2 separate regions of the Homo sapiens genome follow, and region 2 is linked to region 1. Evidence: fine-mapped expression QTL. A gene starts in region 1. The other region holds a variant in brackets. All regions are shown on one strand. Distances are from middle to middle.

Region 1 (5,370 bases):
TGTTGGAACCCCAATCAGATTCCAGTCCTCTTTCCAACCTCCAGACCTTCCCCCTCTTTAGCCTGTTGGTCGCTGCAGGAAGTTATTCCGAGCATGGAGAAGGCCAGGTGTGGCCGAGGGTATTCGGAACTACGCAATGATTTGGAGAACCTGAGCTGCTGCCCACCGCAGGCCGGGGGTGGGAACCCCTGGAGCCCGGCCGCGCAGTAGCCGCGATCCTGCCACCAGGGGGCAGCAAGTGGAAGGGACCCTAGAGCCCTCACCTGGGAGCGGCCGTAGCTGCCTTGGTCACCATTCCCAGAACTGCCCTAGATGGGGGAGAGGAGGATCATACGGGGAGCGGCGCATGAGAGCAGCTCAGGTTATTCGGCTTATTGTGTCCACGCACCTCCTCCTGTCTGACACTTTTCCCGACCCCCGAGGAAGCCAGATGTGGCTCCCTCTCCAGCTCGACTCCAAGACACGGGATGGGAGAGGCCGTCAGCCAAGGGGTTGGACAGGCCATTGACCAGGAGGCTGGAGAGACTGCCGGCTCTGGAGTCAGTGAGGCCCGGGGCCCTGGGGTGGCAGCTGCGGGGTCACAGCGCCCCTTCCTGCCCTCACACCCATCGTGCAGGGGCCCCATGTGTGAATGTCGTCTGCACCGTCGCTCTGTCAGCGTCCGTAGGTCTCCCGGATCACAGTCCTGCCCCCATTCTCCTGGGAGCTTCCCAGACAAGTGTCATATTCTCCCATGTCCCCCTCTTTCTCCGCCACCCCACGGTCTCCTGAGACTTGCCAAGTGGACTTGACTGCAAGAGCTTAGACAGGCGGGATAACGTCCCCACCATCACAGAGTGGAAAATAGGGATACAGAGTCAGAAGCAGTGGGGTGGCTCTGGCAGAAACGATAGTGCGCGCATCAGGGGCACAGCATGGGTGGGGAACAGGAGGCTGAGGGAGCCTCAGGGTGACGACTATCAGCGAGGCCGCCCATCCTCGGGCAGCGGCAGCTTTCAGAGAAACTTGGAGCCCTCTCCCGGCAGGGACCACTAGGGCCTCACCCCATCTCAGCCTTCCACAGAGGTGCCAAACTCACCCAGGAGGACTCACTGCCGCTGTCACCTCTGCTGCCACCACTGTTGCCACTGCTGCCACCACTGCTGCCGCCACTGCTGCCGCCACTGCTGCTGCCACTGCTGCTGCCACCACTGCTGCTGCCATTGTTGTTGTCACCATTGCTGCCACTGCCACTGCTGCCCGACTGTGAGCCGCTGCCTCCCTGAGGGGCAGGAAGGGAGCAGGGCTGGGATTAAAGACAGAGCACCAAGACGGGCCCCTCCTCCCTCCCTCTCCACCCAGGCCATATTCCATGATGCCCAGTCTAAGGGGAGCAGAACTTCTCCATTTCCTCCTGGTGCACAACTCCTGGGTTGCCCCTCTCCACTCACCCCAGAGTTGCTGGAGCCTCCACCTGAGCCAGATGGTGGGGGATTCGTGCACTGTCGAGGGAAAGGGATGGTGAGTTTGGGGACGGTGAGTTTGGAGACGTTGGCCTCGGCCATGGACACAGGCCAGGCCTCTCCCATTCTTTGGGGCTTGGCTTCCTTTCTCCTAATGTGTTTCTCCCACCTCCCCTTCCCATCTGCCTCCTCCCCAGGCCCAGGCCCGTCTCTTCCTCCTTTTTTTTTTTTTTTTTTTTTTGAGACAGGGTCTCACTCTGTTGCTCAGGCTGGAGTGCAGTGATGCGATCTCGGCTCACTGCAACCTCCATCTCCCAGGTTCAAGTGATTCTCCTGCCTCCGCCTCCCAAGTGGCTGCAATTACAGGCGCATGCCACTATGACCGGCTGATTTTTGTATTTTTAGTGAAGACAGGGTTTCACCATGTTGACCAGGCTGGTCTTGAACTCCTGACCTCAGGTGATCCACGTGCCTTGGCCTCCCAAAGTGCTGGGATTACAGGTGTGAGCCACCTCGCCCAGCCCCATCTCTTCCTCTCACCCCAATCCCTCCACTCCCCCATCTTGCTTTCCTCTTTGTCTTTCCCCAGCTCTCTGTAGCCTGCACCCAGTGGCTTCTTCATTTGTTCCCAGCCCCTTCCTCTTACCCCTTCATTCTGGTTGCTGGCTCTCACTGAACCATAGCCAGGCTGGGCCACAGCTCCCTGCAGAGAGGGTGAGACTGAGAGTAGGATCCAGAGGGACCAGGGAGGCACGCGGAGCATGTGGGCTTGGAGGGAGGGAGGTGGCAGGTAGCAGGTCTGGGGGTGACTTTACCTGAGTGTTGGTCCCAAAGTTTGGTGGCCCTCCATTGCCTCCTTGACCCCAGGGAGCTCCCTGAGGATTCATTCCAAAGCTGCCTGCTGAGTTTCCGGGGTATCCGTGGACCCACGGAGTCCCCAGACCTCCAGGATTGCCCTGGCCCTGGCCTCCAAGGCCACCTTGAGAGCCAAAGATGCCATGGCCTCCAGAAGTTTCCTGCAAGAACAACATACCTGCACTTAGTGGGACCATCTCTGACCCTGGTAGAGAAGAGCCAGGGCAAATCATAAAGAGACCAGGAGAGAGACAGGCAGAGGGACTCCAGGGTGGCATAGGAGGGGGGCAGAACATAGAAGGAAGCTGCCCCAGAAGCCTGCAAGTAAGAGATCCATCCATCCTTTCAACCGTTTCCCAAGAATCTCAGCCCAGCAGCCCACAGCCTCCCATTTCCACATGCAGCCCCACAGCCACTCACCCAAGCACCATTGTGGCCAGGCACCCCCTGCCAGGAGCCGCGGACAGCATCTGCTCCGTGTCGAATGACATCTTCTGCCTGTCTGCCAATCTCGTGCCCAGTGTTTCCCAGAGCATGGGCTGCTTCCCCGACCCTGTTGCCCAAAGCATCTGCTACGCCAAAGCCTGGAACCTGCCTGACTCCAGTGCCAACTGCTTCTCTGGTCCCTTGGCCAAGGGCCTCACTGACTTTAGAGCCAGCTGCCCCTCCGGCCTCTTTGCCAATGGCCTTTCCCACCCCTTCGCTCAGGGCGTCTCCCAGGCCATGTCCAAGGGCCTCCCCAATATTTGTCCCAGTGCTTTCCTCTCCGCTCTGCAGGGGGCCAGCCTCCCCACTGCCCAGGCAGAGGGCCAGCAGGAGGCAGGCCAGGGGCCCCTGGAACTTCATCTCTGCCCAGCCCCCTCTCTCTCCAGAGTGTCTTCCTCCCACCAGGGTCTCCTCCTTGCCGCCCTTGCTCTGCGTCTCTGTGCCCTCCTCTGTCCTCCTCCTTCCGACTCCCTGTCCTCCCTCCCTCTGGGTCTGCAGCCTTCTCTCTCCTGTCCTCAACTGCCTGGGCTTCTCAGAGTCCACCTCCCTGTCACTACTCCTTATACTCTAGGTTGGGAGAAGGTGACAGGGCTGGGCAACCTGAGGTCCCTCCCCGCAGTGACTCAGGGCCCAGCCACCAATAGGGTAATCAGCTGTTATTGTGAGTCTGAGAGTCTCTGTCGAAACAGAGAGTGAGCCGCATCAGGGAGGGAGGGAGAAATGGATGAGGTGATGCAAAAGTGCTCCCATTTCCCAACCCCAGGCATTCGGGGAGCTGGGTGGGGGCAGGGGCATCTAAGGAGACAGGTTGTCGTTGGCTCCTGGAGGCGGTGGGGTGGGGGCAGACTTAGAAGAGAGGAGTTACTGGCAGGACCCCACCAAAGGAGTAAGGACAGGGAAGCCCCAGGGGACAGGACCCACCCAGGCTCAGCCAGCCTGGCTCAGGGGCTCCAGAGTGACAGGCATTGCCCGTCCTCGGCCTGGCCTTTCTCGGTTTCAGCACCTCAGCCTCTCCTCTCCCTCTCCCCTCCCGCATTGCCACCTACAGGTGACTGCCTTCTTGTTCCTCCACACCTTCCAGCCCACAGAGAGAGACTGGCAAACACGGGGCTGCGTGTCAGTTTCTGAGATTCTGGGGAGAGCCCCCGGGGGGACCCTCGGTGTCGGGGAAGGAGGTGGCCATAGCCCTTTGAGTGGTCAGCAGGGTGTCTCAGCGTTCAGGCTGCTCCCGGCTGAGAAAGCTGGGCGCGGAGCAGGGCAGCCAGGCGCGCCAGCCACCCCCAGGGAACGAGTGGGAGGGAAGGCCAAGGGAGGGAGCCGCTGACCCAGGCACCCATCCTGTTTACGCAGCCCTAGAGGGGCACGTGTGAGTATAAGCGCCTATGAGGGGCGGGACTGGGCCAGCTCACCCCACCCATCCCCCAGGCCAGGGGCCAGGGCAGCAATGGCAAGCGAGAAGAGGGTAGCGCAAGGTCAGGAGCCATCCGTGAGAGCCACGGCCCTCTCCCCAGTCCCAGCTCGGGATACAGAACCTGGGAGCCTCCCCCCGCCTCACCCCTGCCCAGCAAGTGTGGCTGCTTCTCTATTCCCAGGGGCCACAGGGCCTCCCACTGTTTCGTATCACTGGGGTTCATCGCCCAGTTAGGAGGGGCCAGTTTCCATCAGCCTTTCTCAATGTCTCTCAGTCAGTCTCTCTCTTCTCTCCACCCCAATATCCGCACCCCAGCTTATAACATCCAACACTTCTTACCTTGTAAACACTATCCCCATCTGTCCTCCTCAGCTCCTACTTCCCTGTTATTCCATCTCTGACTCGTTAATGATGATAATAGCGATGGTGGTAATAATAATAATAATAATAATAATAATTACAGCTCCAGCTTATCAGCGGTTCTGTATGTACCCAGCATTGGACTAAGCACAAGCAGTTTAAGAATTATACAACTCTGGGAGATGGTTCTTTTTTTCTAGAGACAGGGTCTTGCCCAGGCTGGAGTACACTGGCACAATTGTAGCTCACTGCAGCATCGACCTCCTGGGCTCAAGCGATCCTCCTGTCTCAGTCTCCCAAGTAGCTGGGACTATAGATGCACACCAGCACACCCAGCTAATTTTTTTTTTCTTTTTGAGACAGAGTCTTACTCTGTTGCCCAGGCTGAAGTGCAATGGCACGATCTTGGCTCACTGCAACCTCCGCCTCCCAGGTTCAAGTGATTATCCTGCCTCAGCCTCCCAAGTAGCTGGGATTACAGGCGCATGCTGGGCCTGTAATCCCACGCTGGGCTAATTTTTGTGTTTTTAGTAGAGACAGGGTTTCACCATGTTGGCCAGGCTGGTCGTGAACTCCTGACCTCGTGATCTGCCTGCCTCGGCCTCCCAAAGTGCTGGGATTACAGGCGTGAGCCACCGCACCTAGCCTCCAGCTAATTTTTTAATTTTTATTTTTGTGGAGATGAGATCTTGTTGTGTTGCCCAGGCTGATCTCAAACCCCTGGGCTCATACGATCCTCCTGCCTTAGCCTCCCAAAGTGCTGGGATGACAGGCATGAGCAAACAGTGGTATTACATTATGCTTGCTGCAGCTCCT
Region 2 (5,370 bases), 30 kb before region 1:
AATGGTGCAATCTCGGCTCACTGCAACCTCTGCCTCCTCCTGGGTTCAAGCAATTCTCCTGCCTCAGCCTCCCAAGTAGCTGGAATTACAGGCATGTGCCACCACACCTGGCTAATTTTGTATTTTTAGTAGAGACAGGGTTGCTCCATGTGGGTCAGGCTGGTCTCGAACTCCTGACCTCAGGTGATCTGCCCACCTCAGCCTCCCAAAGTGCTGGGATTATAGGCGTGAGTCACCGTGCCCGACTCTTCTACAGTGTTTTTGTTGAAGAAGCTGGATTATCAGTTTTCTAGAATTTCTCACAGGAAATGCCAAGGTTGGGGGGAGTTATTAACATCTTTCCTGTAGAATCCTTTACTGTGTTCCTCTGTGCCTTTTCATCCCCCTGCAAACTGGTAGTTAGATCTAGAGTCTAGAGTTTTAATCAGGTTTGGAGTTGATTTTTGGCAAGAATGCTTCCTATGTGGGGCCCTGTGCTTTCTGTTGCATCAGGTCTGCAGAAGCTTGTCTCTTCTCTCTCTGGGTGTTGGATAGATACATGGGTTCACTGGTTGTGAGCCTGATCCACCACCATAAATTTCCCCATCAGCATTTCACCTGCCGGGTTTGGCAGTCATTAATGTGAAGGGATTAGCATGTGCTACTCCAAAGTATGCTGCTTTAGCATAAGGATTATTTTGAGTAGAAGGCAATTAAGAAGCAGCAGACAGAAGAGGAACTCTCTGTCCTCTCCCTTTCTGCCTAAAGCAGGGTATACATTTCCCATCAGGTAGAGGAGATAACTCAACGCTGGAGACTTGAATCTGCATAAGCAAATCTTGCTAAATAACCCTTTATCTTCCATTAATTTCCCCTGTATATTTTACTTACCTTCCCACAATTTACATCACCTGGATGTCCAAATCCCTTTTTCACCGTTTTGTCACTTTTCCACAATTTTTTTTTTTTTTTTTTTTAGACAGAGTCTCACTCTGTCGCCCATGCTGGAGTACAGTGGTGTGATCTGGGCTCACTGCAACCTCTACCTCCCAGGTTCAAGGGATTTTCATGCCTCAGCTCCTGGGTAGTTGGGATTACAGGTGTGCACCACCACACCTGGCTAATGTTTTTGTATTTTTAGTAGAGATGGGGTTTCACCATGTTGGCCAGGCTGGTCTCGAACTCCTGACCTCAAGTGATCCGCTTTCCTCAGCCTCCCAAAGTGCTGGGATTACAGGCATGAGCCACCATGCCCAGCTTACTTTTCCACGATTTATCACCCTTTGTTAAAACGGTATATGAGCCTCAAGCCTGGCCACTTCTTTAGGTTTTCACTTCTTTTCTGTGAAGCTCCTGGATGCATGCATAATAAGCCTTTTCTCCTGCTAATCTATCTTTTGTTAATTTTTTTTTTTAAGATGGAGTCTCACTCTGTCGCCCAGGCTGGAGTACAGTTGTGTGATCTCGGCTTACTGCTACCTCTGCCTCCCAGGTTCAAGCAATTCTCCTGTCTCAGCCTCCTGAGTAGCTGGGACTACAGGCATGCGCCACCATGCCCAGCTAATTTTTGTATTTTCAGTAGAGATGGCGTTTCACCATATTGGTCTGGCTGGTCTCGAACTCTTGACCTCAGGTGATCCACCTGCCTCGGCCTCCCAAAGTGCTAGGATTACAGGCATGAGCCACTGTGCCTGGCCTCTTTTGTTAATGTAATTAGCATGCCACAGCCACTGAACCTAAGACAGTAGAAAAAAATGTTTTTTTCCTTCCCTACAGATGCTAGCCTACATTCATTATTTTATTAAATTTTGAAAAACGAAAATATTCTATTATTTCTTTTGCATTTATTAGTTTCAAATTCTCGTATAAAGAAAAATTGTGCCAGCTGGGCATGGTGGCGCATGCCTGTAATTTCAACACTTTGGGAGGCCAAGGCCAGAGGATCACTTGAGGTCAGGAGTTGAAGACCACCCTGGGCAACATAGCAAGACACCCATCCTACAAAAAATTTAAAAATATACCAGGTGTGGTGGCTTGTGCCTGTAGTTCCAACTACTCAGGAGGCTGAGGCAGGAGGATTGCTTGAGCCAGGGAGGTGAAGGCTGCCTCCAGCCAAGATCATGCCACTGCACTCCAGCCTCGGTGAAAGAGCAAGACGCTGTCT[C/CAA]AAAAAAAAAAAAAAAAAAAAAAGAGAGAGAGAGAGAAACTGTTTACCCTGAAGTATATAGTTCATAGAGGAAAGTAAGGATGAATCCTTGATTCATTTCCTTTATTTACCAGTTTTTTAAATGAGTTGATTCCCAGAAGCCTCCCAAAGTAATCACTTAGTTTGGCTTTGGTTTTTAGTCCCTTTATGTCCTGGCTGAGTATGACAGGGACTTTTTTTTTTTTTAAGTTCATTTATGAATGCCAAATTCAAAGTTACTTTCCCCAGTTTTCTTACCCTGGTGCAAAACTATCTCCTCCCTTCTGTCAGATTTAAACATATCGTTCTAAGGTATCTAGTGCCTTCTCCCTGGATGCTTCCTTTATCGTAAGTATCAACTGGATCATAACTCCTTGAAGGCCTTCTGCATAGCACTCAACATCATGCCCAAGGCCGTGCTTCTCAAACGTTATTCCACATGTGAATCATCCAGGGGCAGGGGTCTTGTTAAAATTCTGATGCATTAGCTCTGGGTGAGCAGAGCTTCTGCATTTCTAGCAAGCAAGCACCAAGTGATGCTGATGCCGCTGGCTCGGGGACCACACTCTGAGTAGCAAAAGGGTGTGGTAAATGTGAGAAATCAGTTTCATTCATTCAGTTAAGAGGCACCTACTCTGGGTCACTGCATGGACTAGGCCCTACCACTTTACAGTGCAAAGCGTTTTTTTGGTGTTTGTTTGCTTTACTAGAAAGTTTTGATTTTAATTTATTCTTTTGAATATGTAATTTGCACATGGTAAAACATTTTTGTTCATAAAATCCAAAAGGGTACACAGTGAAAGTATCTAACTTTTCAAAAGTTATCACTGTTACTTCTCAAGTTTTATTCCAGATAATAGCAGATAATATGCAGATAATAGCATATATTTGTACCATATCTTTATTTTAACCACATGGCAGCATAATGATCTGCCACTTTCTTTTTTTCATTTTACTCTATCTTGGAGATTGTTTCATAGCTCAGTGTATATCTCTACATCCTGTTGAACAGATGGTATAGTATCCACACAAGATTCATTTGTTGGCCAGGCATGGTGGTTCACACCTGTAATCCCTGCACTTTGGGAGTCCAGTGCAGGCGGATCACCTGAAGTCAGGAGTTCAAGACCAGCCTGGCTGACGTGGCAAAACCCCATCTCTACTAAAAATACAAAAATTAGCCGGACATGGTGGCGGGCACCCATGTAGAAGATGTAATTCCATCTTCTCAGGAGGCTGAGGCAGGAGAATCGTTTGAACCTGGGAAGCAGAGGTTGTGGTGAGCCAAGATTGCACCACTGCACTCCAGCCTGAGCAACAGAGTGAAACTCCGTCTCAAAAAAAAAAAATGCATTTGTTATTGTTTTTATAAAGTATAAAATGAAGAGTGACTACTTCCTGCCTTTTATTAAATAAAGGTTATTTAATAAGATTTGCTTATGCAGATTCAAGTCTCCAGTGTTGAGTTATCTCCTCTACCTGATGGGAAATGTACAGGTCATCCCCAGGGAGAACAGGTGCTATGTCTTCCATTCTTTGAATCCTCTGAATGGCCTGACCCATGTTTGTGCATTTTGTCAATTTCACATGATCTAGCTAGTATACATCTGTCACTCATGTGCACAGCTTGTCTACACTTCACTTTGTCTTTTTCTTTTTGGTTCAGATTGCAGTCTCTCTAGACTCCAATTGTTTCTTGACTGTGTATTCTGTCAGCACTTGCAAATTGATCTGGTGTTCTCTGGCTTTAATAATATGTTATTGTGAAATACAACATGCATAGGTGTGCATAAAATGTACATATTTAAAGAAGAAATGAAACATGATATAGAAGTGGCTTCTGTCACACACCGTCCCCCCTTATCTCCTATGTGCCACTCTCCTATCACATGGGATCTCTCCATCTAAGGGGCAACTACTATCCTGATTCTGGGTTAATCTTAAGTTCTCTGACGTTCCTTTTTGAAGTGGTTCTCAGACTTTAGTGAATCAGACTTGCTTAGAGGGCTTGTCAAAACACAGATTGCTGGGCCCCACCCCTGGTTTCGCACTTAGTAGATCTGAAGTGGGGCCCAAGAATTTGCATTTCTTTTCAGTTCCCAGGGGATCCTGGTGCTGCCAGCGTGGGGACCACACTTTGAGAACTACCGCCTTATCTCAGAGATACTCTTAACTTGTGTATCGTGACTCCTAGTCCCCTGGGGATGCTTTACTCCTCCCCTAAAACCTAGTCACTCGATGGGTGTCCCTTAAGCACCTCCCCTCTTCTTCCTGTACTCCATTTCCTATCACCTAGTTTGTGAGTGCACAATCTTCACTAAGTATTTCAACTGATTGTGGCATTTCACCAGTGTCCATAGTTTTCTTCTCTGTTGGTTATTCCATTTATAGCTTTCCTCTCCTTTGTGTGTATTGGAAGGAAGAGCATAAGCAACTTTTTTTTTTTTTTTGACAGAGTCTTGCTCTCTCACCGAGGCTGGAGTGTAGTGGTACAATTTTGGCTCACTGCAACCTCCGCCTTCCGGATTCAAGCGATTCTCGTGCCTCAGCCTCCTGAGTAGCTGGGATTACAGACATGCATCACCACACCCGGCTCAGTTTTGTATTTTTAGTAGAGATGGGGTTTCACCATGTTGGCTAGGCTGGTCTCGAACTCCTGACCTCATGTGATCCGCCCACCTAATTTTGTGTTTTTAGTAGAGATGGGGTTTTGCCATGTTACCCAGGCTGGTCTCAAACTCCTGACCTCAAGGGATACACCCACCTTGGCCTCCCAAAGTGCTGGGATTACAGGTGTGAGCCACCGTGCCCGGCCAGGAACATTTACATGTCTCATTCACCTGGTCTGTAAGCGCCTTGAAAGTAGGAACCAAGTTTAATTTCCCTTGTAGTCCACTTCCTCGATTAAACTGCAGTTGATGGTTTACAAACGCAGTTGCTTATAAAGGCCAAAGGCAATGTAAACAAGTGAAGCTTGCCAAGTAGAAAGTTCCCTGGAAGCCATGTCCTGTGTAAAGAGGGCAGCTGCTACTTGGCTTTAAGCCAGTCGCAGGTCCACTGTTCTCTAATCTTCCCAGTTTTCAAGAGAAACCAGAAACAATTCCAACTAGTTTAGTATTTTAAGTACACAAATTGGGTCAGAGAAAATACATCTACAGGAAGCAAAACTAAATCCATTTCATGTTTCAAGATCTTTGCAGTGGATGGAT

Direction of the effects. Positions count from the first base shown, and alleles are read on the strand shown. Sizes are in standard deviations (SD) of each study's normalised expression.
In carriers of allele CAA in region 2, the expression in NK cells of the gene that starts at base 3,317 in region 1 tends to be lower than with C alone (large effect, 1.0 SD a copy in Gilchrist 2021).

Evidence for each region. PIP is the estimated chance that this variant, and not a neighbour inherited with it, causes the effect. A credible set is the group of variants that fine-mapping cannot tell apart.
Region 2: its variant is the best candidate, but not a certain one, in a credible set for the expression of DMKN in NK cells (Gilchrist 2021, PIP 0.77).

What each region holds. Positions count from the first base shown.
Region 1 is chr19:35,510,333-35,515,702 of GRCh38, forward strand. DMKN (dermokine) reads right to left here and starts at 3,317. Exons shown (of 16, transcript NM_033317.5): 1 at 2,718-3,317; 2 at 2,258-2,458; 3 at 2,089-2,145; 4 at 1,431-1,481; 5 at 1,079-1,261. The coding sequence starts at 3,143. RefSeq lists an enhancer at 1-156.
Region 2 is chr19:35,480,557-35,485,926 of GRCh38, forward strand. No RefSeq gene overlaps it. Among named protein-coding and RNA genes, the nearest start is that of KRTDAP, 7.2 kb to the right of the region's middle. RefSeq lists a silencer at 4,173-4,262. The variant C/CAA (reference allele first, on the strand shown) is at 2,144.